7 linked regions of the Homo sapiens genome follow. The protein of the gene in region 2 interacts with the protein of the main gene of each other region in a pairwise test. Each region holds a gene or a part of one and is shown on either strand. Other genes may lie near its edges. The genes, in order: FAM174A, STX7, ANKS6, LSMEM2, TM4SF19, YKT6 and GJC3.

Evidence for each region.
Region 1: the proteins of STX7 (region 2) and FAM174A interact in binary tests that used the Homo sapiens proteins (3 or more experiments, as listed by UniProt).
Region 3: the proteins of STX7 (region 2) and ANKS6 interact in binary tests that used the Homo sapiens proteins (3 or more experiments, as listed by UniProt).
Region 4: the proteins of STX7 (region 2) and LSMEM2 interact in binary tests that used the Homo sapiens proteins (3 or more experiments, as listed by UniProt).
Region 5: the proteins of STX7 (region 2) and TM4SF19 interact in binary tests that used the Homo sapiens proteins (3 or more experiments, as listed by UniProt).
Region 6: the proteins of STX7 (region 2) and YKT6 interact in binary tests that used the Homo sapiens proteins (3 or more experiments, as listed by UniProt).
Region 7: the proteins of STX7 (region 2) and GJC3 interact in binary tests that used the Homo sapiens proteins (3 or more experiments, as listed by UniProt).

Annotation. Positions count from the first base shown.
Region 1 is NC_000005.10:100,538,144-100,542,170, reverse strand, and holds part of FAM174A (membrane protein FAM174A precursor), read right to left. Parts: intron 1-4,027.
Region 2 is NC_000006.12:132,450,185-132,454,211, forward strand, and holds part of STX7 (syntaxin-7), read right to left. Parts: 3' UTR 1-4,027. UniProt on the Homo sapiens protein: May be involved in protein trafficking from the plasma membrane to the early endosome (EE) as well as in homotypic fusion of endocytic organelles. Mediates the endocytic trafficking from early endosomes to late endosomes and lysosomes.
Region 3 is NC_000009.12:98,734,349-98,737,898, forward strand, and holds part of ANKS6 (ankyrin repeat and SAM domain-containing protein 6), read right to left. Parts: intron 2,276-3,550; coding exon 2,171-2,275; 3' UTR 1-2,170.
Region 4 is NC_000003.12:50,277,677-50,282,242, reverse strand, and holds the start of LSMEM2 (leucine-rich single-pass membrane protein 2), read right to left. Parts: upstream 3,157-4,566; 5' UTR 3,130-3,156; coding exon 3,072-3,129; intron 1-3,071.
Region 5 is NC_000003.12:196,328,040-196,332,066, forward strand, and holds part of TM4SF19 (transmembrane 4 L6 family member 19), read right to left. Parts: intron 1-4,027. UniProt on the Homo sapiens protein: Negatively regulates vacuolar (H+)-ATPase (V-ATPase) activity by interacting with members of V-ATPase V0 complex and hence inhibiting V1-V0 complex assembly. Required for multinucleation during osteoclast differentiation.
Region 6 is NC_000007.14:44,207,082-44,211,108, forward strand, and holds part of YKT6 (synaptobrevin homolog YKT6), read left to right. Parts: intron 1-306; coding exon 307-411; intron 412-1,051; coding exon 1,052-1,117; intron 1,118-3,941; coding exon 3,942-4,027. UniProt on the Homo sapiens protein: Vesicular soluble NSF attachment protein receptor (v-SNARE) mediating vesicle docking and fusion to a specific acceptor cellular compartment. Functions in endoplasmic reticulum to Golgi transport; as part of a SNARE complex composed of GOSR1, GOSR2 and STX5.
Region 7 is NC_000007.14:99,926,748-99,931,527, forward strand, and holds the start of GJC3 (gap junction gamma-3 protein precursor), read right to left. Parts: upstream 2,874-4,780; coding exon 2,093-2,873; intron 1-2,092.

The sequences.
Region 1 (4,027 bases), on a different chromosome or scaffold from region 2:
ATGGATCACCCAGGGAACATGGACAGTGAAAGCAGGGCCCAGAAAACACTGTCAGTTGGGAGGTGAAAGTCATTCTCTTCCACAAAAATTCAATGCATCTCGTTGTATTCTAGGAATCAGATTGGGCCTTTAGGGACCAAAGATGAGTAAGACAGAGGCCCTGCTCTCCAGACATTAGCTTGTAGAAGAGTCCTAATTAGGAAGAAGAGTTCATGGAATAAGAAATTCATGAAGAAGCTAGGCAAGAAATACTCAAGGAGGTAAGAAGAAAATCAGAAGAGATGTCTCAGAAGTCAAAGTAAGAACCAGTGCACTGAGTGCTACAGAAAAGGGGAAAATATCCATGAAACTGAGACAATGTGCTTATTAACCATCTTCTGCATGAGTAATTCTAGAGTGGTAGAATTAGAAGCCAGACTACAAAAAGCATAAGAGAGAATGAAAGGCATGGAAATGGGAACATTTCAATGGAAAATCTCTCTCCTGTCCTATGACAAGAGCTTTATTTAGATTCCCTCCTTAATGTCTTCTTAGGTATCTTCCTTTCCCATATCTTCAATATTTCCTTCTGTACTTGCTCTTTCCCCACTAATGGCATTTAAACAAGACTGGATAGTTCATTCTTAAATGGACCCCTTTCTACAGCTCTCATCCAATACTTCTCCCTGCCTGCACAGTTAAGAGTGAAATGAAATATATCCAAGCAGAAAAGGTCAACTGAAAATAGATTCAGTTACAGGGCAAGTTTGTAAAAGATTTATGCTGATTAGAGATAAATATTTAGTCTTCTACAAAAATATAATAGTTTTTGTTATGTTATGAAGTGGCTTTTCAGATGGCTTTGTCTAACAGGAATGATATTTAAGAGCAGCCTTCTCCAAATAGCTTCAGCTCTTGCTGCCACATTCCCAAAAGTTTAGTTTATTACCACAAAAAGCAGTGGTACTCCTTCACTAGATAAGCTCCTTGAACACAAATATGATGTCTTTATTATCTTTGAAGCCCTAATATTCAGAAGTTTGAGAGATATAACAGTCATTCAAATTTATCAGAAACAGATTTGTGTGGGCTTAAAGGTGGCCCATATGATAACTTGTCAAACTACTTTACATAGTCCACATTCAGCATTGTCCTACAAATCTCCTGAGCCAGGGTGTCATACAAGCAAATGGCTATTGATGTGGTGAAGCAAAGATCTCCTCAGCTCTTGAGATCACTAGGCAGTGTCTAAGGTGGATAGTATCAGGGCAGGTAGTCTCATACATTTACCCCGTATAGATATCAATGTCTATATGTGGCATTACATGAGCAAGCATTGCTCTGGCCTCAACGCCCCCAACAAACTAGTACATCTCCACTTTTACCTCCCAGAACTGCACACATAACAAATATCACTTAAAAACAGAGCATTCTATTATCACTTCACTTATGATATGATAATCATATCAGGGATTATGATCCCTGACATATCAGTTATGTCATCATCTTGGTATTTTGGCACTTGACCACATAGCAAACTAACTTGACACTTTAAAATATTTTAGGTGTATGAGTAAACATTTTGTGAAGGGAAGTTTCACCTTTGCAAAAAAATATTCATTACTTGCGAACTAGTACTTGTTAAATACATTTCCAAGTTTCTGGGTCTCTTTATATAGAAAACATTTGATATACACTGACTAGCTAAATAAATAATGGCAAACCAGGACAATTTACACATGTTAGGAAAACTCCACTTTCCAAGGAGATATGAACAATTATAATGGAAGTTCCATGAATGCAGGGACTTTCCTTGTGCACTACTAACCCTCATCACAGAGCTTAGTAATGGCACCCAATAGGTGGTAAATAATATTTACTGAATTAGTGACAGTCACTAAATACATAAATGGTTAAATAGTCAAAAGTACTCCTGGTTTTGCTTAAATTAAGTGATTTCTATGGATGTTTTATAATTTTGTAAATAGGGCTGGTACCACAAGACTTCTAGGAGAAAAAGAAAACAACTCATATTCTTAAGTAACCAGACAAAAGAGAAATGGTGATTAAAGTCACATGCATAAATCATTAGTGACTTGCTCCACTAAGGTGGAAATATGTGTGACCATATTAACAGACGTTTCTTTAAAATATTACCATTCCCTGACTATGTGTAGTAAATCAGGAAAATCTTTGGATGAGGGAAGGAATGCAGGGAGTTGAGGTAGGAAACAAAATTATTTCACCTTGGCACAAATATGATGATCAATAAATGTTAACTCACTTTTCAAAAAGGTAAAATTTGGAGGTTTAACATCCAACAAAATCATGTGTTTTAAACAGAAAGGCACTGGGCATATACTATCCACTTTATTTTTCTCCATAAATAAGCTAGCCATCTTTATGTGCAATATCGCTTTAAATTGGTTACTTTAAATGATCACAGGAAGCAGCATGATGGTTGAACATGTTAGGTAAGTTCCAGCAGAGCTGGGTTTGGGCAGGTCCTGTATGTGCACGCTTGGGCAAGTTATTTAAACTTGCTCAGCCTAAATTTCCTCAGTAAGAATGATATTACCTACTTTGAAGGTTTTTGCAAGAATTTCAAAATGCACATAAAGTATGCGGTATTATATCTGACACATAAATTATCAATTAACTATCAGCTATTAGGATGATAAGTAAAAGCTCAAAAATAATCTTTCAGTTACAAAGTATGGTTCTTTGAAAAAACCTAACGTTGTGTCTTAGCGTATAGGGTTGGGTAAGCATTCAAATTAAATTAATATTCTTTATTTCCTATATAATATGTATTAATAGGATCTGCATTTTAATGCCTTTTCATAGCATCCTTTATGTACTTATCTATGTGATTATTTGGTTAATGCCCCTCTGCTCCTCTAGTATATAAGTGTTATAGAAGCAGAAATGTTTGTTTTGCTCAAAACTGTATCCCCAGTGCCCAGTACTGGTCAGTTGAATAAATATTGACTGCTTAAATAAAGGCTATCATAATAAATTTCATGCTCATCTCCACTATATGAGCATGAGCACCATATTTTCTTGAAATTGGAAGAGACTTGCTAAAGAGCATAGAGATTTTTTTTAAAAAAAGTAGAGGGTTAAACTTTTAAGCATCGATTTCCTTCCAATATACCAAATTGAATAAAAAACGAAAAACCAACGACATGGCATGAAAAAGGAAATAATTCCCTGCTTTTAAGGCAAGAATCATTATTCAGCTATGACAAAAATTGCTTTATATAATTACCATACGTGCTAAAACCAACAACCATCTACAGTGATTTCCCCCCACCCCCGCTCCCTGGCCTTATACATTTTACTGTGGAGAGAATGTCCTACTGAGAGGAAGGAAATAAAAGTATTAATTGAGATCTTCGCAGTTCTTTGTTCCGTCAGTAAACAGCAATTATCCTTAAATTTCCAAATCCTTACCACCTACCTGTTCAGCAATATAATACATGAAGAGTGCTCATCCATTAGGCAACTGCTTATTCAGTGCCCATCATATATTGCACATGATGTTTAGCACTGAGGATATAGGGGAGAATAAGACAGAAAAGTCTCTTTTCATAGAGATTAAGTGTTCATTTTAGGCAATCTACTTTGTCCCTACCGTGTTCCTTGCATATATATATATACACTTACATATATATATATATGTTTTGTATTTCTACAGTGAGAACCTGACTGTTCTTTGGAATGTTTCCAGACTCAAAAAGGAAGTTATTATTACCTACATATTCATTATAAATGAATTAGATAAAAACAAAACTATTTGAAAGTCTCATGTAGTTCAATGTAATAAAATTTTACAAGTAAAATATTTTCTGCATCACCTCAAATCAGTTAAGAAAATAATGATTTTGGCCCATTCTTCTCCCTTGGCACAAATAACTAATTTCAGTGCACTGTCACACATAGTTTGAAAATGGGAGCCAAAATGAGCATTCACCAAGATAATGAAGAAAACCATAATCTGGAAGCAAAAAGTATGAGTTCGGAACACTGCCCAGACATTGTTAGC
Region 2 (4,027 bases):
ATGTGTGTTGTATTTTATCCAAGAACTAACTGTATTTTAGCAGGAGGATCCTTGAGTATACCTAGTCAACCATATGGCAGGAAGCAGAAATCATCTACTTCGTAGTTGATTTTGGTAATTTGCATTTTTCATATAAATTATTCATTTTCTGTTTTGTGATATATTGGCATAAAGTTGTTTATAGTGTCTTATTATTTTAAAATCTATGTTTGGTTATTTATCTGTACTTTCATTCCTAAATTTTTTATGTCTTCTGTTTTTTTCCAAATCGGTTTCACCAAGTTATGTGTACTTTATTTATTTAAAGAGACCAACTTTTGTTTAAATTGATCCTCTCAAAAAAAAAAAAATTGATACTCTCTTCTATAGTATAGGTTTATACTCCAGGGGTCAACCAACATTTTCGGTAAAGGGCCAGAAATTTTAAAATTGAAAAATGCAGGAATCAATATGAAACACTTAATTGATAGGCTCAATAGCAGAATGGAAGCTACTGCAGAAAGAATGAATAAATCTGAAGATAAAATGATAGAAATTACACAGTCTGAACAACAGAAGAAAACAGGCAGAACAAAGATGAACAGAACCTCAGGGACTTACGGAACTACAATAAATCTAACATTTGTGTCATCAGAGTCTCAAAAGAAAGAAGAAAGAAGGAAGACTGAAAAAGTTCTTGAAAAAAATGACAGCTGAAAACTCCCCAAAATTGGCAAAAGACATAAACATATAGATGGTGAGAAGACCTCAAATATAATAAACCCCCCAAATCTACAAGATACATCATGGTTAAACAACTAAAAACTAAACACAAAGGAAAAAAAGAAAAAGAAAAAAGACAAATGACACCTATCTATAGGGACCAAAACAATTTAAAAAACTGGATTTCTCATGGGGAACCATGAAATTTTCTTTCCTTTTTTTTTTTTTTGACAAGGAGTCTCGTTCTGTTGCTCAGACTGGAGTACAGTGGTGCGATCTCAGCTCACTGTAATCTCCGCCTACGGGTTCAAGTGATTCTCCTGCCTCAGCTTCCCAAATGGCTGGGATTACAGATGTGCACCACCATGCCGGCTAATTTTTGTATTTTTAGTAGAGGCGGGGTTTCGCCATGTTAGCCAGGCTGGTCTCAAACTCCTGACCTCAAGTGATCTGCCCGCCTTGGCTTCCCAAAGTGCTGGGCTTACAGGCGTGAGCCACCCCTCTTGGCTGGAAGTGGCAGAACAATTTTCAAGTGCTGAAAGAAAAGAACTATAAACCTACAAGTCTATGTCTAATGTAAATATTCTTCAGATATCAAGGGAAAATCAAGACATTTTCAGATGAAAGAAAACTGAGAGAATTTGTTGCCAATGGAACTACAATAATAATAATAAGGCTAAAGGAGTGCTCTAAACAGAAAGGAAATGATAAATGAAGGAGTTTTGGAATATCAGACATCAAAAGTCTAACAAAAAATACAACCAAAAACTCTACATATAAATCTGAGAGCTTAGATGAAATGGACTAATTCATCTAAAAATACAAACTGTCACAACTCAATATGAAATAGATAAATTAAACAGCCATATAACTATTGTAAAAGTGGAAATTACAATAAAAAGAACTCCCTCCCCCAAAATCTCCAGGCCCAGATGATTTCATTGGAAAGTTCTATCAAATGTTTTAAAAAGCGCTGACACCAATTCTATACAATCCGCTTTAGAAAACAGAAGAGAAAGGAATACTTTCCAGTTCATTTTGAAGCTAGTATTACCCTGATACCACCAACCAGTATGTCGCATTAAAACAGATGCAAAAATCCTTAACAAAATATTAGCCAAAAGAATTAAGCTATATATACAAAGATACACCACGACCAAGTGGAGTTTATCTCAGGGATGTAACAATGGCTCAACATTCAAAAATCAATCAATGTATCTACCACATGAATGGGCTAAAGAAGAAAAATGGCATTATGTAAATTAAGGCAGAAAAAGCATTTGACAAAATTCAACATAAAATTCATAATAAAAACTTGCAGAAAAAAAGGAATAAAAGATAACTTCCTTAACTTTAGCAAGAGCATCTACTTTAAAAACCTACAGCTAACATTATACTTCATGGTGAAACACTGAATCCTTTCTGCCTAAGACCAGAAACAAGCCAAGGATCTCTACTCTCACTGCTTTTATTTCTGCTGGAATTTCTACCCACTGCATTAAGGGACTGAAAGGAAAAAAAAAAGGAATATAGGTCAGAAATGAAGAGATAAAACTATTCATTATTTGCAGATGACATGACTATCTATATAAAAAAAAAATCCCAAGGAATCAATCAAAATCCCCTAAAATGAGTAAGTGGGCTCAATAAGGTCTCAGTATACAAAATAGAAAAATTCACTTTATTTCTATGTACTTAGAATAGACATGTGAACAGGAAATTCAAAATACAATGCCATTTACAATCTCTCTCAAAAATTAAATTGCTTAGGTATAAATCTAACAAAACATGTACAGACCTTGTATGCTGAAAACCACACAATACTGATGAAGGAAAACAAAATTTAACTGAAATGAAGTGAAGTGATCCTGTGATCATGATCGGGAAGGCTTAACATGGTAAAGATGTCAAATCTCCCCAAATTGATGTATAGGTATAACATAGTTCCTGTCAAAATCCCAGTAAGATATTTGAATAGATACAGACAAGATTATTCCAAAGTTTATACGGGAAGACAAAGGAACTAAGTGGCTAAAACAATTTTGAAAAAGAAAGTGGAATAAACCAGCCTATTTGATTTCAAGACTTACTACAGTAATCAAGATTTTGGTGTTGGTGGAGGTATAGACACATAGTCTAATGGAAAAGAATAGAAAACCCAGATATAGACCCACACGAATGTGCCCAACTGATTTCTCATTAACTCATTTTTGCTCAACTGATTTTTGACAGAGGTGCAAAAACAATTCAATGGACAAAAAAGAGCCTTTTCGACAAATATCATGTTGGAGTAATTGAATATCCATAGGCAACAACAAAAAAAATGAACCCAGACCTAAGTCTCACATTTTATACAAAATTAACTGAAAATGGAATATAGACTTAAAAGTAAAACGTAAACTATAATACTTTTAGAAAACAACATAAAAGAGAAAATTTGGGGGATCTAAGGAGAGAGGCAAAGTTCTTGATACCAGAAGCATGATCCATAAAAAGAAAAATGGATAGAGTGGACTTCATCAAAATTAAACACTTCTGCTCTGTGAAAGGCCCAGAAAAGAGAAATGAAAAGACATGCTACTGACTGGGAGGAAATATTTGCAAATCACACATCCAACAAAGGACTAGTATCTAGAAAAAAATACACACACACACACACAGAGGCACACACACACATTATTTAAAAGCCCTCAAAACTCAACAGAAAAAAAATCCAATTAGAAAAGACATGAAGAAACATGTCACTAAAGAAGAGATACAGGTGGCAAATAAGCATATGAAACAAAGATGCTCAACATCATTGCCATTAGCGAAGGGAAAATGGTAAATCAAAACTGCAATGAGCTGTCACTATACACTTATCAGAATGACTAAAATAAAAAAGAGACACCACCAAATGCTGAAAAGGACATGAAGCAACTAGATCACTCATACACCACTGGTGGGTATATAAAATAGTACAGCTACTTGGTATAAGTTTGGCAATTTCTTAAAAACTAAACATTCAACTACTATATGACCCAACTACTATATAACTGCTGGGCATTTGACCCAGAAAACTAGATTATGTTCACACAAAAACTTGTACACAAATGTTTATAGCAACTTTATTTATAGTAGCCAAAAACTGGCCCAATGTCTCTCAGCAGGTGAACAGTTAAACAAACTGTGGTACATCTATACTATGGGATTCTATTCACACTAAAAAGTACCTGTCAATAGACTTGATACACATAATAAGCTGGATTAACCTCCAGAAAATCATGCTAAATGAAAAAAAGCCAATCCCAAAAGGTTACATATTATTATGATTCCAGTTATACAG
Region 3 (3,550 bases), on a different chromosome or scaffold from region 2:
GCTGTGTATCATTGTTCAATCAAACTTACCTGAGTGGAAGCTATACCAGTATATTGTTATGAAAAAAACAGGACCACAGCAAAAAGCAGGCACAAAACCTCAAAGCACATAACGTCAGGGGCCATGAATTTCAGAGGCAAACAATTCTAGGCCTACTGTTAACCCCTGAAGCCATCAGTAAATTAAAACAAGAATCACAAGTGCTTCTAGCTCCAGGAGTCTATAGGAGTTAGTGGAAAAGGCACAGGCTTGCAAGCCCACCAGGTCCGGTTCTGACCCCAGATCTGCTCCTTCTGGGCTGTTTAACTGGCAAGCTGCTTCCCTCTCCTAAGCATCCGTTTCCCGAATGTGCAAGATGAGGTTACACAATGCCACCTCCAGGGTGGCCATGAGGATGAAATGACAAAGGTAAAGCTGCCAGCACATAGTAGGGGATGAATGAGTGTGTCTCCTTAAAAAGGCTGGGACATTAGTAACCTTTGTAAAGGTGTCTATCAGTAACAGCTAAATGAAACACTTTGTCTTCAGTCCTGTGGAAAGTTGGCTTCTGTGAGTGTAAGGCTGAGAGAATTTAAAGGAAAAACACCCAACCATCAGGGCAGGGGAAGAAAACTACGAGGCTCTGGGCAGTAAGTTAACGACAGCCTCTGAAAGCCAGCATAGGGGAATGGGCTTTCATGGCTGGGGGAGGGACAGATGAGAGATGGCACCTCCCAAGGAGACCAACTTGTGGCTCAGCATGGCTCAAGGTAGAGATCAGAATTCTGTGCAGCCTACCATCGACTGGGTACTTCCTGCAGACCCAGCACTTTGGGCATACTGGTTCTAAGCTCCAACTAAGAGGCCATTGAGCTTCATCTGAACTTTGAACCTGAGTCCAGAGCACAAGGTCTGCCCACTCTACCATGCTGCCTCTCAATGTCGGGACCATCTATTTACAGGTGTTCTCTTGCCTGTCGAGAGCCTGAAGGCTCTGTATTGTGTCTGCACACTTGGCACCTGGTAGCTAACATAAATGCAACAAGCACTGGCTGAATGAGTCATTCACTGGAAAACACTTCAGAAAGCCAGTGGGTTTTAAAAGTCAGGGCCCCTCTAATTTAATAAAATATGATATGGTAGGAAACTACACAAGCCAATTCCCTTTTGAGGAACACAGCATTAATAGGATGTAGACAAAATTCCAAATTTTCACTTCTTTGCCTAGAAACTTTGAGCACCAGAGACCTTTACACAATGTGACCCATTAGCCTTCTGCTTCCACTTTCAGTGCAGAAAGCCCTGCAGTGATACAGGTGAGCACTGTGGAGTACCAGAGCATCATCTGGTCTGACCTTCCACTTTGCAGATAAGGAAACTGAAAGCTAGGAAGAAGAAGGGATCCACACAGCAGGCCTCCACTTCTTTCCTTCTATAATAGACTCTCTTTGCAATAAAGAAAAATGCGTTTGACATACACATCTCCAATGTAAGCTGTATGCAGCAGGTGCAGTGGAATGCTACAGCAGTCACATACACAGCACTAAGGGACCCAGTGGCTGAAAGGGGGTCAAAAAAGACTTCATCTGAGAGGTGACTTGGACTAGGAGGGGCAAGTTAGAAGTTTTAAGGGAAGATGTGCCAGGAAGGCTAACCTCTCACCATAATACATACCCCCCATCTAAGTCAAAAGTTGTTGCTGGGAAGCCACTATGTGGAGACTGCACATCCTGGCCTCCTCTGCATCCAGGTGGGGCCACATGACTACCAGTGGCCAAGAGGACGTGAGCAGGAGTGATGTGTGTCAGTTAAGAGCAAGGCAGGTAAGAAGCAGCCGTGCCTTCTCCATCGTCCCTTTCCCTTGCCGCCAGCCAGAAGCAAACTCTGAGGCTCCCGGGGAGGGCAGAGCACAGGATGAAAGGAGCTGAGTCCCTGCATCACTGTGTGAACCAACCTGCCAAGCAGAAGCACCCCCACTGGACTGTTACATGGGAATCTGTCTCTGTGTGTTGAAGTTTGTTGCAGCAAGAAGTACTACCAATGAATGCCGTCGACGTGAAGTGGGCATCCCGAGCAAAGGGAACAACATGACTAAGGCACAGCAGTGTGACGGGGGCAGGGCTGGGGCTGTGGCCACGTGAAGGGGTCCCGGGATTCAGAGAGCTCACGCTGGTGGCTGCGGGAAGGAGGATCACGCACAGGGGCTGTTGCCAGGGGCCCTGGTGTTGCTGGCACTGCTCTCAAAGGAAGAGTGAAAGTTGTGAATGGTTTCCTGTAAAATTTGTCTCTCGCGTCCCTGTGGAGGAAATTGAAAACAGACACAGAAAGTCTTATTAAACCTTTTAACCATTAATTCAATTGACACAGTGTTGTTAATGTTCAACTCATACTTCAAAAACCCATGGGCGTCTTGGGGAAAATAAATTACCTAACTGAAAGAGTACCGAGTTCAATAAAAACATACTGAGTCAGAATCTCCCCAGTACCCACCATCGCAGCCTGTCAATGCTGGAGAGGCCCTGGGATGCAGGACCCCAAACCCCTGGACAGAGTGGGAGGCCGAGTCCGGGGCAGGACTGACTTCTCCCGAGTCGCACGGCCCGGATTCGAGGTCTCCTTTCCTGCGCCTCTGTGCATCTTTCCAGTCCTTAGATTTCCAGATAATTCAATGGGAGCCAAGTGTCCTTCTGCTACAGGATAAGAGTTTAAACTGCCTTTGCTTCCCTTTGCCCAAAAGCTGCCGGATTTGTCTTCACAGAGATTCACTTCTCACTCTATTCCTACAACGCCCCCTGCCCCCTATACACACATTTTCAGATGAGAAAAGAGGGTGGATGTGAATGTTCTGTTAAGCCCAGAAAACATCATCACTGCATTCCAGGCTCGGAGGCAGCAATACTCAGAGGTTAAGAACAGAGACTGCGTCCTAGCCAGAGCAATCAGACAGGAAGTCAAACTGTCGCTGTTTGCTGATGACATGATCGTTTACCTAGAAAACCCTAAAGACAGCTCCAGAAAGCTCCTAGAACTGATAAAAGAATTCAGCAAAGTTTCTGGATACAAGATTAACGTACACAAATCAGTAGCTCTTCTATACAACAACAGTGACCAAGCTGAGAATCGAATCAAGAACTCAACCACTTCTATAATAGCTGCAAAAAAATAAAAAAAAAAAATACTTAGGAATATACCTAACCAAGGAGGTGAAAGACCTCTACAAGGAAAACTAGAAAACACTGCTGAAATAAATCATAGATGACACAAACAAGTGGAAACACATCCCATGCTCATGGATGGAGAGAATCAATATTGTGAAAATGCCCATATTGTCAAAAGCAATCTACAAATTCAATGCAATTCCCATAAAAATATCACCATCATTCTCCACAAAATTAGAAAAAACAATTCTAAAATTCATATGGAACTGAAAAAGAGCCCGCGTAGCCAAAGCAAGAATAAGCAAAAAGAACAAATGTGGAGGCATCACGTTACCTGATTTCAAACTATACTATAAGGCCATAGTCACCAAAACAGCATGGTACTGGTATAAAAAATAGGCACATAGACCAAC
Region 4 (4,566 bases), on a different chromosome or scaffold from region 2:
CCAAGGCAGGAGGATCATTTGAGTCTAAGAGTTTGAAACCAGCCAGGGCAACGTAGGGAGACCCCATCTCTACAAAAAAATCAAAGATTAGGGCCGGGCATGGTGGCTCACACCTGTAATCCCAGCACTTTGGGAGGCTGAGGTGGGCGGATCACGAGGTCAGGAGTTCAAGATCAGCCTGGTCAACATGGTGAAACCCCATCTGTACTAAAAATACAAAAAATTAGCCGGGCATGGTGATGGGCGCCTGTAGTCCCAGCTACTCAGGAGGCTGAAGGCAGGAGAATAGCTTGAACCCAGGAGGCGGAGCTTGCAGTGATCCAAGCTCAAGCCACTGCACTCCAGCCTGGGCGACAGAGCTAGACCTCGTCTCAAAAAACAAAAAAGTAATTAAAGATTAGTTTGGTGTGGTGGCATGCTTCTGTGGTCCCAGCTTCTCAGGAGGCTGAGGTGGGAGGGTTGCTTGAGTCCAGGAAGTCAAGGCTGCAGTGAGCTGTGATCATGCCATTGTACTCCAGCCTGGGCAACAGAGTGAGACCCTATCTCCAAAAAAAAAAAAAAAAAAAAAAAAATTCCCTGCTGCCGGGCGCAGTGGCTCACACCTATAATCCCAGCACTTTGGGAGGCCAAGGCAAGTGGATCACAAGGTCAGGAGTTTGAGACCAGCCTGGCCAATATGGTGAAACCCCGTCTCTACCAAAAATATTTAAAAATTAGCCAGGTATGGTGGCAGGCGCCTGTAGTCCCAGCTACTTGGGAGGCTGAGACAGGAGAATCACTTGAACCTGGGAGGCAGAGGTTGCAGTGAGCAGAGATCGTGCCACTGCACTCCACCCGGGGCGACAGAGCAAGACTCCGTCTCAGAAAAAAAAAAAAAAAAAAGGGCCGGGCGCAGTGGCCCATGCCTGTAATCCCAGCACTTTGGAAGGCCGAGGTGGGCAGGTCACGAGGTCAGGAGATCGAGACCATCCTGGCTAACACAGTGAAACCCCGTCTCTACTAAAAAATTCAAAACAAAAATTAGCTGGGCATGGTGGCTGGCGCCTGTAGTCCCAGCTACTCGGGAGGCTGAGGCAGGAGAATGGCATGAACCCGGGAGGCAGAGCTTGCAATGAGCCAAGATCGTGCCACTGCACTCCAGCCTGGGCGACAGAGCAAGACTCTGTCTCAAAAAAAAAAAAAAATTTCCCTCTTTGTACTTTGTTGTGCTTTTCTCACACTTTCTAAATTGAATGTGAATTGTTTATTACAGGAAAAACACACAGTAAATGTTATTGTTAAGATCCCAAAAGAGGGTAGGCACAGTGGCTTATGCCTCTAATCCCAGCACTTTGAAAGGCCAAGGTGGCTGGCCGGGCGCGGTAGCTCACACCTGTAATCCCAGCACTTTGGGAGGCCGAAGTGGGTGGATCACGAGGTCAGAAGATCGAGACCATGCCGGCTAACACAGTGAAACCCCATCTCTACTAAAAATACAAAAAATTAGCCAGGCGTAGTGGCGGGCTCCTGTAGTCCCAGCTACTCAGGAGGCTGAGGCAGGAGAATGGCGTGAACCCGGAAGGCGGAGCTTGCAGTGAGCTGAGATCGCGCCACTGCACTCCAGCCTGGGCGACAGAGCGAGACTCCATCTCAAAAAAAAAAAAAAAAGAAAAGAAAGGCCAAGGTGGGAGGATTGGATTGGTTGAGGCCAGGAGTTCAAGACCAGGGAGACCCTTCTCTACACACACACATGCATGAAAGTAAACATTTCCCCCTACCAGGGGCAAGGCCCCTCTCCTGCAATGTTGAAAATGTTGGCAGTGGCTCACGCCTGTAATCCCAACAATTTGGGAGGCCAAGGTGGGTGGATCACCTGAGGTCAGGAGTTTGAGACCAGCCTGGCCAACACGGTGAAACCTTGTCTCTACTAAAAATACAAAAATTAGCCGGGCATGGTAGCACATGCCTGTAATCCCAGCTACTTGGGAGCCTGAGACAGGAGAATAGCTTGAATCTGGGAGGCAGAGGTTGCAGTGAGCCGAGACCGCACCACTGCACTCCAGCCTGGGTGACAAAAAAAAAAAAAGTTGAGGCCAGGCGCGGTGGCTCACCCCTGTAATCCCAACACTTTGGGAGGCTGAGGTGGGTGGCTTACGAGGTCAGGAGTTCAAGACCAGCCTGGCCAAGATGGTGAACCCCCGTCTCTACTAAAAATACAAAAATTAGCTAGGCATGGTGGCAGGCGCCTGTAATCCCAGCTACTTGGGAGGCTGAGGCAGAGAATTGCTTGAATCTGGGAGGCGGAGGTTGCAGTGAGCCGAGATCACGCCACTGTACTCCGGCCTGGGTGACAGAGCGAGATTCCATCTCAAAAAAAAAAAAAAAGTTGAAAATGTGATAAGAGGAGCTTGCTAGCTGGGCCATGCTCTGTCATGGGCCATAACATGGAGCCATGGAGCAGACAGTCCTACGTCCTGGCCAGTACTGGACCTGTAGCTTCCTAGATTCCTGCTGCCCTGGCCCCTCTGAGCATCAGTACTTCTTATATGCAGTGGTGCAGTTAGGTGAGTGGCCACCAAGCTCTTGACTAGCTGAGTCTCTGTCTGACCAGGCCAAGGGACCCCCAACCCTAGGCAGTTGGGGATATTTAGACCCAAGTCAGGGGAGGCCAGAGGCCTAACTACTTTTCAGTCCATGGGACAGGTACCCAAATGCTTTCTGGAACCACTACCCACCCCAATCCCAGCTTCCTTCCTTAAGAGCTGAACCGGCCAGGCAGCTGACCGGATGCCCACACCCACCTGAGCACAGCCTGTAGTTGACCCACTCCTAACTGGGTAGCTTCTCCCATCCCTCCTTGATGTCCCCAGCAGGGGAAACTGAAGCAGGGCCTGAGGTGACAAGGGGCTCCAGGCATGGCAGGCTTTTCCTCCCTGCACAGGGGGCAGGTCCTTTTACTGGAGCTGGAGCATGAAAATGGGTAACTAACTACTCAAGACAGTGAGGTCAGTGGGACAGAGGGTGGGTCTCTCCATGGTCCACAAGGTCACAGGACTGAGGCCTTGCCCTCCCTCATGGTCACCCTCTCCTACCTTCTTGGGTCTCCTCAGGCATGGCAAGCAGTGGGCAGTCGGGGGCCAATGATGGCATCCAGTAGCAGGACTGGACAAATGCAGCAGTGGCTCCTTTGTGAGCCCAGGGAAGGCCTGGCTGCCTCCCAGCCTTGGCCTAAAATAGGCCTGAGCTCAGCCCACTGGGCTATATTTAGAGGGGGCAGCCCTCAGCCATGGGAAGGGGCAGAGTGATCCACGTGGGCCAGCCTGAACTATCTACCTGGTGAGGGAGCCAGCCAGGAGCCTGCCTCCACTAGTCCAGGTGCCCAGGGACCTTCAAGGGGAAGCACACCTCCCCCATACATCCAGAATGGCCACTCCAGGCTCAGCAAGGCCCCATGTGGCAGCCAAGACAGACAAAGGAAGCCTGTGCATCTCTATTTGGCCACCCCTCTACCCCTGCAGACTCCTACCCACAGCCCAGTCATCTCTCCTCCCAGCAAACACAGCAGCCTCCACTGCATGACCTGCTAGCACACAATGCTATTGTTGTGTGTGTCTTATAGAGGGTGATGGACAACTGAATCCCAATGCCATGAGGGCTCTGATAGCTTCACAAGTGGGCAGATACACCAACAGCACCCATGCTGGCCAGTGGGTGGACCTAGGTTGGAGGCTGGTTCATTTGTTACTAAGCTTGCAACCTTAGGTAAAGGGTCTCCCCTCTCTGAACTCAGTTTGCTCATGTGTAAAGTCGGAATAACAGTGGCTCCTCCCTGGCAGTGTACACTGAGAACAACATCTGGAGCATTTAGCACAATCCACGGTTTTGGTCTTCCCCTGCTCCCATCTCCACAAGGGCAGACAGGTCCCATAAGGTTGTGTAAGGATGCGCATCACTGCTTACCTTGAAAGGAGGAGGTGGTCCAGCTTCCAGCTTTCCCTCTGTGGTTGGATCCCTGTGCCCTTCCTTCCCAGTGGGGGCAAAGCAAGACTGTGGGCTCTACTTCCTACACACCTCAAACCTGTCACTCCGTTGTCTCACACTGGCCTCCCTGATGTTCCTCAAAGTCAACAAGCTTGTTACCACCTCAGGGGCTTGGTGGTGGCTGTTCCCTCCTGGAATGCTCTGCTCCCAGATAGCCCTGTGGCCAGCCCCGTCTTGTCAGCGAACTCAAATGCCACCCCTTCAGTGAGGCCTTCTGTGTACATTCTTTTCCACATCACCCAGTTTTCTTTTCTTTGAGACAGAGTCTCGCTCTGTTGCCCAGGCTGGAGTGCAGTGGGGCGATCTCGGCTCACTGCAACCTCTGCCTCCCTGGTTCAAGCAATTATCTTACCTCAGCCTCCTGAGTAGCTGGGATTAAAGGCGCGTGCCATCACACCCACCTAAGTTTTGTATTTTTAGTAGAGACAGGGTTTCACCATGTTGGTCAGGCTGGTCTTGAACTCCTGACTTCATGATCCGACTGCTTCGGCCTCCCAAAATGCTGGGATTACAGGCGTGAGCCACTGCGCCCGGTCCAGTTTTATT
Region 5 (4,027 bases), on a different chromosome or scaffold from region 2:
GCCTGTAATCCCAGCACTTTGGGAGGCTGAGGCAGGCGGATCACGAGGTCAGGAGTTCAAGACCAGCCTGGCCAACATGGTGAAACCCCGTCTCTACTAAAAATACAAAAATTAGCTGGGCACGGTGGTGGGTGCCTGTAATCCCAGCTACTGGGGAGACTGAGGCAGGAGAATTGCTTGAACCCGGGAGGCAGAGGTTGCAGTGAGCTGAGATCATGCCACTGCACTCCAGCCTGGGTGACACAGCAAGACTCCATCTTAAAAAAAAAAAAAAGTAACATTGTTATTATTCACAGATAATGTGATCACATTATGTAGAAAATCCTAAAGTTTATTAGAATTAACAGGTGAGTTTAGCAACGTCATAGAATAAAAGATTAATATACAAAAATTATATTGTATTTCTATATACAAGCAATGACAAATTGAGGATTGAAATTAAAATATATCATTTACAATAGCATAAAAATATAATACATATGGATGAATTTAACAAAATATTTGCAAGACCTATATAGTAAGAATTGCAAAGCATTGCTGAGAAAATTAATGGAGACCTAAATAAATGGAGACATATACCATGTTCCTGAACCAGAAGACTCAAAATAGTTAACATGTTCTCCCTAAATTGATGCAAAGATTTAAAGCAATATCAGTCAAAATCCTAGGAGAGTTTTGTTATAGAAATTGACAAACTGAATCTAAATTTATATGGAAATGCAAAGCAATTGTGAAGATTAGCCAAAGCAATTCTGAAAAACAAACAAAGCTGGAGAACTTACGCCATGTGATTTCAAGACTTACAAAGCTACAGTAATTGAAGACACTGAAGCCACGCGTAAGGAAACACATATGGACTACTGGAACAGGCTGGAGCTCAGAAACAGACCCGGTCCAGGAAAAATGATTTTTTTTTTTTCTTGAGACGGAGTCTCGCTCTGTTGCTCAGGCTGGAGTGCAGTGGCGCGATCTCAGCTCACTGCAACCTCTGCCTCCCAGGTTCAAGCGATTCTCCTGCCTCAGCCTCCCAAGTAGCTGGGATTACAGGTGCCCGCCACCATGCCCGGTAATTTTTTGTATTTTTAGTAGAGACGGGGTTTCACCGTGTTAGCCAGGACGGTCTTGATCTCCTGACCTCGTGATCCGCCTGTCTCGGGCTCCCAAAGTGCTGGGATTACAGGCATGAGCCACCGCGCCCGGCCAATAAATGATTTTTTAAGAAGATGACAATTCAGCGGGAAAAAGTCTCTTCCACAAATGGTGCCGGAACAATGCACATGCAAAACAAAACTGCCTTCACTATTACTTCACAACATATTCAAAAATTCACTTGAAATGGAGCATGGGTCTAAAAGCTTTATAAAATTTCTAGAATAAAACAAAGGAGAAAAACACTGGGACCTTGGGTTAGATAAAGGTTTCTTACTAAAATGCAAAAAGTACAATCCACAAAACATGATTAATCAGACTGCTTAAAAATTTAAATGTCAGCTGGGTGCTTGCCTATAATCCCAGCTACTCGGAGGTTGAGGCAGGAAAATCGCTTGAACCCAGGAGGCAGAGGCTGCAGTGAGCTGAGATCGCGCCACTGCACTTCAGCCTGGGCGACAAGAGCAAGCGACTCCATCTAAAAAAAAAAAATCATGCTAAAAGAAATAAGCCAGACACTAAAGGACAAATATTGTATGATTCCACTTATATGAAATATTCAAAATAACAACTTTATAGAGAAAGAAAGTAGACTGGAGGTTATCAGGGACTGTGGGGAGGGAGGAGAGAATGGGGAGTTATTGTTTAATGGTTACAGAGGTTTTCAGGTTTTGTTTTGTGTTGTTTTGTTTTTTTTTTTTGAGACAGAGTCTTGCTCTGTCAGCCAGGCTGGAGTGCAGTGGCGCAATCTCAGCTCACTGCAACCTCTGCCTCCTGGGCTCAAGCAATTCTCCTGCCTCAGCCTCCCAAGTAGCTGGGACTACAGGCATGTGCCACCACGCCTGGCTAATTTTTGTATTTTTAGTAGAGACAGGGTTTCACTATGTTGGCCAGGCTGGTCTTGAACTCCTGACCTCAGGTGATCTGCCCGCCTCGGCCTCCCACCGCGCGCGGTGGTTTTGGGGTTTTTTTAGAGATGCAGTCTCACTATGTTACCCCAGCTGGTCTTCAACTCCTGGACTCAAATGATCCTCCAGCCCGTGCCTCCAGAGTAGCTATGACCAGATCTGGGCCACTGCCCACGGTTTAAGGGTTACAGACTTTCTGTTTGGGGTGAAGAAAAGTTTTGGAAATAGATAATGGTAATGGTTGCACATCATTGCAAATGTAATTAATGTCACTGAATTATACACTTTAAAATGGTTAAAATGACAAATCTGATGTTACTTTACCACAATAAAAAATCAATTAAAAAATTTGTGATTACTCAAATCCTTATCAGTAATCAATAGGTGAATCAAGACAAATTGTGTTATCCATACAAATGAGTTCTATTAGGTAATAAAATGCGTAAATTTCTGCTACATATAACATGGATGAATCTCAAAAGCATTGTGTTAAGTGGAAGAAGCCAGAAACAAAAGACTACTCACATGTTTCTATATATACGAAATTCTAGAAAAGGCAAAACTTTTAACGGAGAGCAGATGAGCGGTTGCCATGGGCTGAGAATGGGAAAGAGGATTAGTATGGGGCATGGGAAGCTTTCTGAAGGGGTGGAAGCATTCTGTGTCTAGATTCTGGTGGTGAATACATAACTGTACATATTGACAAAACTCATTAAACTTTGCACTTAAAATAGGTGAATTTTATTGAATTTTAACTATATATCAATAAAGCTAATTACAATTAAAATGTCATATCTAGATAAATTATAAAATGCCTCTTCCACTCCTTATGTTCCTCTCTTTTATATTTTCATTGATATGTGAACTTCTTGTTTTTTAGAAAAATATGAATTAAGGCCGGGCACGGTGACTTACACCTGTAATCCCAGCACTTTGGGAGGCCAAGGCAGGTGGATCGCCTGATGTCAGGAGTTTGAGATAAGCCTGGTCAACATGGTGAAACCGTGTCTCTATTAAAAAATACAAAAAAATTGCTGGACGTGGTGGCAGGCACCTGTAATCCCAGCTACTCGGGTGGCTGAGGCAGCAGAATCGCTTGAGCCCAGGAGGCAGAAGTTGCAGTGAGCAGAGATCGTGCCATTGCACTCCAGCCCAGGAAACAAGAGTGAAGCTCTATCTAAAAAAAAAATATATATATATACATATATATATGAATTAAAATAGGACTAGTAATATTTGGGCAGACTCATGTCAATGTGGATCTGAAAAAAGTCAGCGTCATGACATCCCCAGGAAGTGGCCTGTTCCCACTGTGCAGTTCAGTTACACGTCTGTCTCCCCTTAAGGCTCGCTATTTATTTATTTATTTAATTTATTTATTTATTTTTTATTGAAAAAAATTTATTTTTAGCCGGGTGCAGTGGCTCACGCCTGTAATCCCAGCACTTTGGGAGGCCAAAGCCGGCAGATCACCTGAGGTCAGGAGTTCAAGACCAGCCTGGCCATCATGACGAAACCCCATCTCTACTAAAAATACAAAACTAGCCGGGCGTGGTGGCGCATGCCTGTAATCCCAGCTACTCGGAAGGCTGAGGCAGGAGAATCACTTGAACCCGGGAGGTGGAGGTTGCAGTGAGCCGAGATTACGCCACTGCACTCCAGCCTGGACAACAAGAGTGAAACTCCGTCTCAGAAGAAAAAAAAATGTAATAGAGGTGAGGTCTCCTTATGTGGCCCAGGCTGGTCTCAAACTCCTTGGCTCAAGGGCCCTCCCACTTCAGACACCTAAAGTGCTAGGATGACAGGCGTGAGCCACTGCACTTGGCCACTTGAGGCTCTTGACACGCCTATAACACACTGCTTTGCACCTAATCAGAAAATATGTGTATAGAGGCCAGGCACGGTGGCTCACGCCTGTAACCCCAGCACTTTGGGAGGCTGAGGTGGGTGGATCACGAGGTCAGGAGTTT
Region 6 (4,027 bases), on a different chromosome or scaffold from region 2:
CTTTTTTCTGGAAATCTGTAGTTTAAAATTCAAATACCTTTATTACTCCCCAAGTGAGGTTCATCTCGGGCTGGGCATACTTTTGATTCTCAGAATATTTAGGATATGTTTTAATGATAAAAATTTGGAAAGAACTTTAGCCTAGATTTTCTCTGTTGCCATTATATGTCCCCCTCATTCCTCCTTCCTGGGCTGTGAAGGCCAAGGAGCCTCATTCAGGGTGAGGTGCTCAGGGGTGAAGCCCTGTCATTGAGACCACTGGTGAGTGCACAGTGGGAGGCTTGTTGAGTCTCCTTTGTCTTGCAGGTACTAGATGAATTCTCCAAGCAAGTCGACAGGATAGACTGGCCAGTAGGATCCCCTGCTACAATCCATTACCCAGCCCTGGATGGTCACCTCAGTAGATACCAGGTAGGGTTAAAGGAAGCTTCAGCAGACACCATGTGGCCCAGAATCCATGTGAAACTGAAAAAGCCAACTGCCCTGATAGTTCTGGTCTAATTACTTCTGACAGCTTCTGATGCTGGTGTCCTCTCTCAAGCCTTACTGTTTGGAAAACAGAGAATCTACGTTCAGACCGGGGAACCCAAGCTCTAGGCAGGCTTTGGGTTTCTGTTACATGTTAAACAGGCTGTGGGTTTTTTTTTTTGTTTTTTGTTTTTTGAGTTGGAGTCTCACTCTGTTTCCCAGGCTGGAGTGCAGTGGCGCAATCTCGGCTCACTCAACCTGCACCTCCTGGGTTCAAGCGATTCTCCTGCCTCAGCCTCCCGAGTAGCTGGGATTACAGGCATGTGCCACCACGCCTGGCTAATTTTTGTATTTTTAGTAGAGACGGTTTCACCATGTTGGTCAGGCTGGTCTCGAACTCTTGATCTCTGGTGATCCACCCGCCTCATCCTCCCAAAATGCTGGGATTACAGGCGTGAGCCACTGTGCCCGGCCCAGGCTGTGGTTTTTAACCTGTGAAAGTTTGTCCAGCTTCCTCAGTTTTAGGTTTTGTTTGCAGGTAGCCACTCCAGTCCTGACTTTATTATTTTTCACTCTTTCCTAGAACCCACGAGAAGCTGATCCCATGACTAAAGTGCAGGCCGAACTAGATGAGACCAAAATCATTCTGGTAAGCAGGAAGATGGAGAGCAAGCCCAAGAACTGAGGCGGGGGTGCGATTTCCACTGGCCAGGCATGCACAGATCCATCCTCGTTTTAATATAATAGTAACCACGGCACTCTCCAGCAAGTGGGATTGCCCACCCCTTCCCCCACCCCGGGCATCAGACTGTCTTTCCTATACCCTTCTCTTGGTTAATGGCACCCATTGTTTCTAGGGGACCAAGCTGGGAACCAGTGGAACCCTCAAGTCTCCCTTCCTCATGGCTACTGCCTGTCTGACCATTTACTGGGTTCCTAGGGTTTGGCTTCTGAAGACCTGGATTCCCACCCTGGTGCCTTTGTTAGGGTTTCGGGTGCCTCCACACCCCACAGGTGCCTCCCCTTGCAGCGTTTGCATTGAAGGTGAACAGATTGAAGCACCGTGCACTGACCACAGGGCAGCTTCTGGAATATGGGCCCAGGGTTGTCACATAGGCCCCTTTGAAAAGAGCCAGAACCCTGCATTTTGAGCTGAAATCTCCTGATTTGTAACTGTTGCTTCAACTCTTTTTTTTTAAATTTTTGCATACAAGTGGAATGTAAGCAGCTATCTGTTTTTCTCAGGTTTTTCTCTTACAGCCTTTGCCTCTAAGTGGTCCCCTTGCCTCCTGCTCACCTCCAGTCTGTCCACCAGAGAGTAGTCATTGATCTGCACAACTTAGAACCCTTCAGCAGCTCTCAGATCCGCCCCAGGATAAAGTGCAAACTAACTCACAGTCTCCTGACTGGGCCCTGTTCTCTCTTATACCCTTTCTTGCCCAGCTCACACACAGGCGCCTGAAGGTTGGGCCTTTCTGACCAGATGTCACAGTTTTGTCACTGCTTGTTTACATGTCTCCCTGACCAGCGTATGAGCACTGGGACATCTTTCCATCCTGCTCATGATACAGTGCCTAGTTTATACCATGCTCAGCAGTTGATAGATACCTGGAGTGGATTGAAACCCACATACAAAGCTTTACCATTTACACAGGCATAGCTTTAGTGTGTACATCAGCGTCTCCTGGGGTTGGAGTTGTTGGCCTGCGATGGAGCCTGGGAACCTGCATTTTATAAAAAGCATCCCAGGGGCTTCAAACACAGGTGTGCTGACTGCACTCCAAATAACGTGGCTTTGGAATGAACGATAGATGTGAAAGTCTCATGGTATCTGTGTCTTTTGAAACCTTGTGAGCTTTCTTACCACCTAGGTGGCATTTCTCCGTTTTCTCCTCAAGCCATCTCTTTCTGTTGCTCAAGTCCTAGTCTGAGTACCATGACACCTGGGACACCCGCTGTTTCTCCTCTCCCCACGGTGGGGAGTGGATGAGTCCTATTCACCCAGCCTCATCTAGCTGCAGTTGTAAAATCTAGATGATTGGTGTGCATATCTGAATCAGTTAACTTTCTGTGTTAAAAATTTGAGTCGCTCAGCTGTGTGTAGGGATGAAGGACATTCTTGCTGGCTCCTTGTTCTATGGCGCTTCATGTGTGCATCTAGCTGCTGCAGCAGTGGCCATCTGAGGAGAGAAGCGAGCTGCTGCTTCCTGAGGGCCCTGGCAGCAGAGCTGCTGGCTCTTGTGAGGTCTCCATCTCTAGACCCCTTCCCATGGGGTCAGTGTTTTCATTTCCTAAGTCAGAGTTTGTAGTGATGACATTTAGGACATAGCCCATTTAGAAGGCAGGACATGTTCTGTCATAGTGCTGTCTGGTATATATTTGGGGCATGTGTGTAACTTAGAATTTTCTAGGAGCCATATTTTAAAATGATAAAAGGAAAATAGGTAGAATTTAATTTAATTATATATTTTACTTAACGCAGTATATCCAAATACAATTTTTCCAACATGTAATCGGTATAAAACTTGTTTTTTTTTCAGTATAAAACTTACTAATGAAGCATGTGTGAGTTTGCATCTGAAATCTGGTGTGTCTGTACTCAGAGCGCTGCTCAGTTTGGACTTGCCTCACATCAAGTGCTCAATAGCCATTTCCCACCGCCTTTTGTTTCCTGTGGCTGCTGTCAACAGAAACCCTCAAATATTTGCTTTTAACAGATAGCTCTGTGGGCCTGGCTGGTGTCTTTTGGGGCTCTGAGTGTCTGTCCCAGGCCTCTCTCCAGCCTCTGGTGGCTGCTGGCCATCCTTGGCATTCCTTGGATTAGAGGTGCATCACTTCAGGCTCTGCCTCTGCCGTCACGTGACCTTCTGTGTGTGTGTTTCCGTTTCTTACCAGGACATCAGTCATGGAATTAGATGCCACCCTAATCCAGTATTACCTCTTCCTAACTAGTTACATCTGCCAAGACCCTATTTCTAAATATGGTCACATTCAGAGATTCTGGGGATGTTAATTTCTGGGATGCGGTTGGGGTTGGGGGGTGCGGTGTGGGTCACTCTCCAACCCAGTACAATCATATAGTGCCCAGCTACTCTTTTTTCCAAAGCTCCATGCACACGCACATGTGCGTGCACACACACACACACACACAAATGTATATATAAATGTGTGTGTATATATATATATGAGTTTTCCTGGAGTGCTGGTTATCTAAGCCTGTGCTGGGGACAGCTTTTTGGGAAGTCTGCTACATCCCAGTTAGATCTTCTAGATTTCACGGGAATGTCACCAGGTTCTGTTCCATCCACTTGGACAGTAACTATTCTTGGACCGAGTCTCGACACCTAGAGGTGAAGTTTGTGTGTGTTGGAGAGGAACCCAGGTAAGGCACTTTCCCCCATGACTGAAATATGAGGGGCTCATGTCAGGGCACGTACTGAACAGAGCTGGATTCTCTTTTCTTTTTTGTCCAGCACAACACCATGGAGTCTCTGTTAGAGCGAGGTGAGAAGCTAGATGACTTGGTGTCCAAATCCGAGGTGCTGGGAACACAGTCTAA
Region 7 (4,780 bases), on a different chromosome or scaffold from region 2:
GGATATACAACTCTGAATATACTAAAGGCTATTTAATTGTATACTTTTGTCACTGGTAGAGGATAGTGACTGCAAGTTGTCCAGGTTCTTGGCGTTTTGAACAAGGAATTGGACAAAACTCCTAGCAAAGCAAAGAAAGGATGAAGCAACAAAAGAACGAAAGCAGGGATTTATTGAAAACCAAAGTACACGCCACAGTGTGGGAGCAATCCGAGCAGCGGTTCAAGGGCACGGATACACAATCTTCTTGGGTCCCAGTACCCACTAGAAGTTTCCCTTTGGCCAGTTCATGCTTTGCAGAAAGCAACCAATCAGAGGCTAGGAAGAAGTTACGAAGTTGCAAAGGAAGACTCATCTGCAAACAGCCTGATTTGTTGGGGACAGGCAATTTCCCATCTGCTGCACAGAAAAGGTGGGGGTGTTGCAAAGGGAGTAGCCTCTGGTCCTTGTGTTACTTAGGCAAGGAAAGTTAGAGTTTTCCTTTCAATTTAGTCCTAGGAAGTTGGCGTGAAACAGCCTTAGGTTCCCTTCCTCCAGAACCTATTCTCCTGCCTCACTTTAAGTGGATAAATTATATGGTGTATGAATTATATCTCAATAAAGCTGTTTTAAAAGGGGGTGGTATAAGGAAGAATTCCAAATGATGCTATTTGCGTTTTTCCTTGGTCACTTTGGCTGGGCTCTGGCTACAGTGGATGAGGGATTCTTATGAAGCACTTGTGTAGCAGGAAGAAAAAAAAAATTTCCTAGCTATTGCCAAAGCATCCCTTGGGATCCCCTAACTTACTTGGGGATAATTTGGGATTCAGAAAGAGAAAAAAAAATAGATAACTGCCTTTGTTGAGAATTTCAGGGCAAGAGAAAACTAAGAAAAGAGGGCAGCGTTCTGTTAAAAAAAAAAAGGGATAGAACAACACTGTCCAACAGAAATGACTAAGAGACTCGAGAAGACTGATATTCAGATTGCAGTTACCCGCCGAATCACACTGTGATGTCAGCCTCCCTTGCTGTTACTCCCAAATCAGCATATCAGCAGTAGAACTCTACTGCTTTTTCTGTGTGGTATTGAGGGTTATGAAATTAAAGAGTAGGAACTTGGTCCAGCATGAGTTGCTGCAGTTCTGGAGACAATTGTAACAAGCTGCAACGAGAACTGCAGAAATGAAGAATGAGAATTGAGCAGAAATCAGAGCTATCAGTGATCAAGGGGGCCTAAGCCCCTGAATTCACAGTAATTTTCCTTAAGGATATGGCCGGGTATTTGGATAAATCTATAGATATTAGAGGACACTGACTTATATATGCTTGAAGCCCAGAGTTTCTGGCTTATGACATGTGCTGCAGGTCTGAGGGGCATTCATTTACAAAACTTTGATGATAAGGGGAGCAGAGAATGTGGAAAAACAGAAAAGAGGTAAATGAAGCCAGTGAGACAGGAAGGGGCATTATCTTCAGCAACAGGAATGCCAACAGCAGTCATCAATATTTATTGAGCAGGACAGGGGAGAGACACAGTTTAGGGAGGCTTCTCCCGGCTGACTCTTGAACCAAGCCCATAAAAATTGTGATGCTGACACCAGAAAATTCCAGTGAAAAGGCACAGTCAGGAAATGCTTTAGACTACATGGCCCAAGGGGCCCTTAGAGATCCTTCAACAGCCTCTAATTTGTCACAGACATGAATCCCCACTCACTGGATGTTGGAAAGAAGATTCAATCACAGAGTTTCCTTCAGGCAAGTCAGGTGTCTTTATAACTCTGCAAAGTAGAGAATCAAGAAGAAGCTGAGATTTTTCCTAAGTGGAGAGAGACCTAAATGGAAGTTCAGGAGGGACAACGGACTAGCACTCTTGTCCTTGTTCGCTGGAAGGAACCATCAAGTTGATGGGGATGGACATTGGGATAGATTTTGAGAGCAAGAGAGAACAAAGAAAAGGGTTGGGAGTGGCGGTCAGAACACATCTGCCTAGAACCTGGTTACCTACTTTGTAACATGCAGAAGTTGTACTTCCCAGAAAGGTGAGGGACCTGCCCCGGGAGGAGATCATCAGGACACAAACATCAGTGACAGGAAGAGAGCGTGTCCTTCTCACCTGCTTCTTGAAATTGCTCTTTGGTTTCCACCACTGGGAGGCTATCGGTTGCTTTCTTGTGTCTTCTGGTGCTCTCTGAAGTTAGGAAGTATTTAGAAGAGGAAGATTTGTGCTTCCAGGTCCTCCACCATCTCCCCAAACCCAGAAGCACAAGCTCCAAAAAAGTAAACAAGAGACAGAAACCGCTGACTCCAAACATGGTCTTTAGGAAAATGGTCTTCTCAGAGGGGCGGGACAGATTGCAGGTTATACTACCAAGGCAAGGTTCTCGGCGACATGCAAAGGAGCTGGGCATCTGGAACCCATACAGGTGGTACTGCAACCCCAGGGCTGCCCCCTCCAGGACAAGCCGAGCCCCCAGCTGAGCCACATAAGCCCAGAGCAGCCTGAGGCTTCCAGCCCCTGGGACATCTGTGTTGCCCTCCCGTCCCTGGATCAGGGTCTCCTCCTCCTTCCCCTTTCCTGATAATTCCCAGTGCCAGATCACGTGATACAGAGTGAAACCCATATAGAGGGCGCTGGGTACAGCCACCAAGATGACCTGGAAGACCCAGAAACGCAGCGGGGAGAGGGGGTGGAAGGCATCGAAGCAGGCAGCCTTGCAGCCCGGCTGCTGGGTGTGACACACGAATTCACTCTGCTCATCACCATAGACTCCAGGCCCACTGGCAGCCAGCAGCACAAGGCGGAATCCCAGGAGCACGGGAAGCAAGAGGCGCCCCACGGGGGTGGAGCGCCGGCTCTCCTCCGCCAGCAGCCGCCGCAGGAACCTGCCACACATCCTGTTTTGGAGCAGAGGACAAGAGATCAGTGTTGTTCACTGTCCTTCAGAGGGAGCTCCAGTCCACCTTGTCACTCCTAATCCAAGGATCACTGAAGGCAAGCTTTTTTATTCCTCTCCAAGTATCTGACTGATTAAATACCAAGACTCTGATTGCACCTCTTTACTACTTAATGAAATCATCTATGTAAAATAATAACAGTGAGTGTGTGTGGTGTGGCTCTCTCTTCTGCCCTCCCCTTCTGTACTGCTGGAGTGGAGAGGAACTCTCAGGTTGGAGAGACCAGGATACATCTTCATCTCTCTCTTTCCCTCCTTCCCTCCGTCTCTCTTTCCCAAAGGCTGAACGTAAGAGAGTAGACTGGGATGTTTTGTTAATTTTCCTTTGAAAGGTATTGCTTCCCCAGCTGATGGCTGCCAGGCCTGGTGCTCCTACAGCATCATCTTAAGCAAATTAGTGCTGATGCTGAGAGGGAATGTGCATTCTCTTGCGGTCTTCTTTTCTCTTCCTCCATGCCCTTGGATGATCACAGGTGTGTCTGGATGTCCTCTTCTCCCATCACAGTGGTAAAGTTGAGAGGTAGTTAGGTTATGGGGCTAGATGTGATGGATGAAATGAACAGAGCAAGCATCGAGGCTTGCTTTAGTCTGATGCTCTTAGGCCTTACAAGCTGAGGAAGAAGAGAACATTTGGAAGGTAACCCAGCAGAATTTACCAGAATTACATACTATAGGATTTGGGGCCAGAGCCAGAACTGACTAGATAGAAATTCAGATTTTTGACCCCCACTTGCCATTGTTCCTTGGGCATATTATCTCCCTCATGGTGACAGGCGACCATGATCAAGGATAAGTTTCAGAAATCCCTCTGTTCCCCAGCCAAAATACCACAATGCTACAAGCCCAAGTTCACCATCTCTATATTTGTCCTAATCAGCTGCCTTCCCCAATGCCCAGCAGCTGTTTCAAACCGTCCCCATTTAGCCTAAATTCTCACTCATCTGGTTACCCTCACACTCAGAAGACCATGTGGTATGGTCTGAATGATGATCAAGATGCATATGCTAGAACCTAATACAGTAGTCCCCCCTCTTATCTGCGATTTCACTTTCTACAGTTTCAGTTACCCACAGTCAACAGAGGTCCAAAAATATTAAATGGAAAATTCCAGAAATACAAAATTAATGTTTTAAATTGTGTGCTGTTCTGAGTAGCACTATGAAATCTCACACCATCCCACCCAGGATGTGAATCATCCCTTTGTCCAGGGTATCCAACGCTGTAGACGCTCCTTGCTGGTTTGTGACTTAATCGCCATTTTGGTTATCAGATCAACTATCAATACTCGTTCAAGTAACTCTTATTTTACTTAAGAATAGCCCCAAAAAGCAAGAGTAGTGATGCCAGCATATTGTTACAATTGTTCCAGTTGTTCTATTTCTTTTTTTTTTTTTTTTTTTTTGAGACGGACTCTCGCTCTGTCACCAGGCTGGAGTGCACTGGCACGATCTTGGCTCGCTGCAATCTCTGCCTCCCAGGTTCAAGCAATTCCCCTGCCTCAGCCTGCTGAGTAGCTGGGACTATAGGGGCGCACCACCACGCCGGGCTAATTTTTTGTATTTTAGTAGAAACAGGGTCACTATGTTGGCCGGGATGGTCTCAGTCTCCTGACCTTGTGATCCACCTGCCTCGGCCTCCCAAAGTGCTGGGATTACAGGCATGAGCCACCATGCCCAGCCACAATTGTTCTATTTTCTTAGTAGTTATTGTTGTTAATCTCTTACTGTGCTAATTTGTAATTAAACTTTATCATAGGGATGTACATATGGGGAAAAAAAACATAGTATATATGGAGTTTGGTACTATCCACAATTTCAGGCATCCACTGGAGGTCTTGGAACATATCT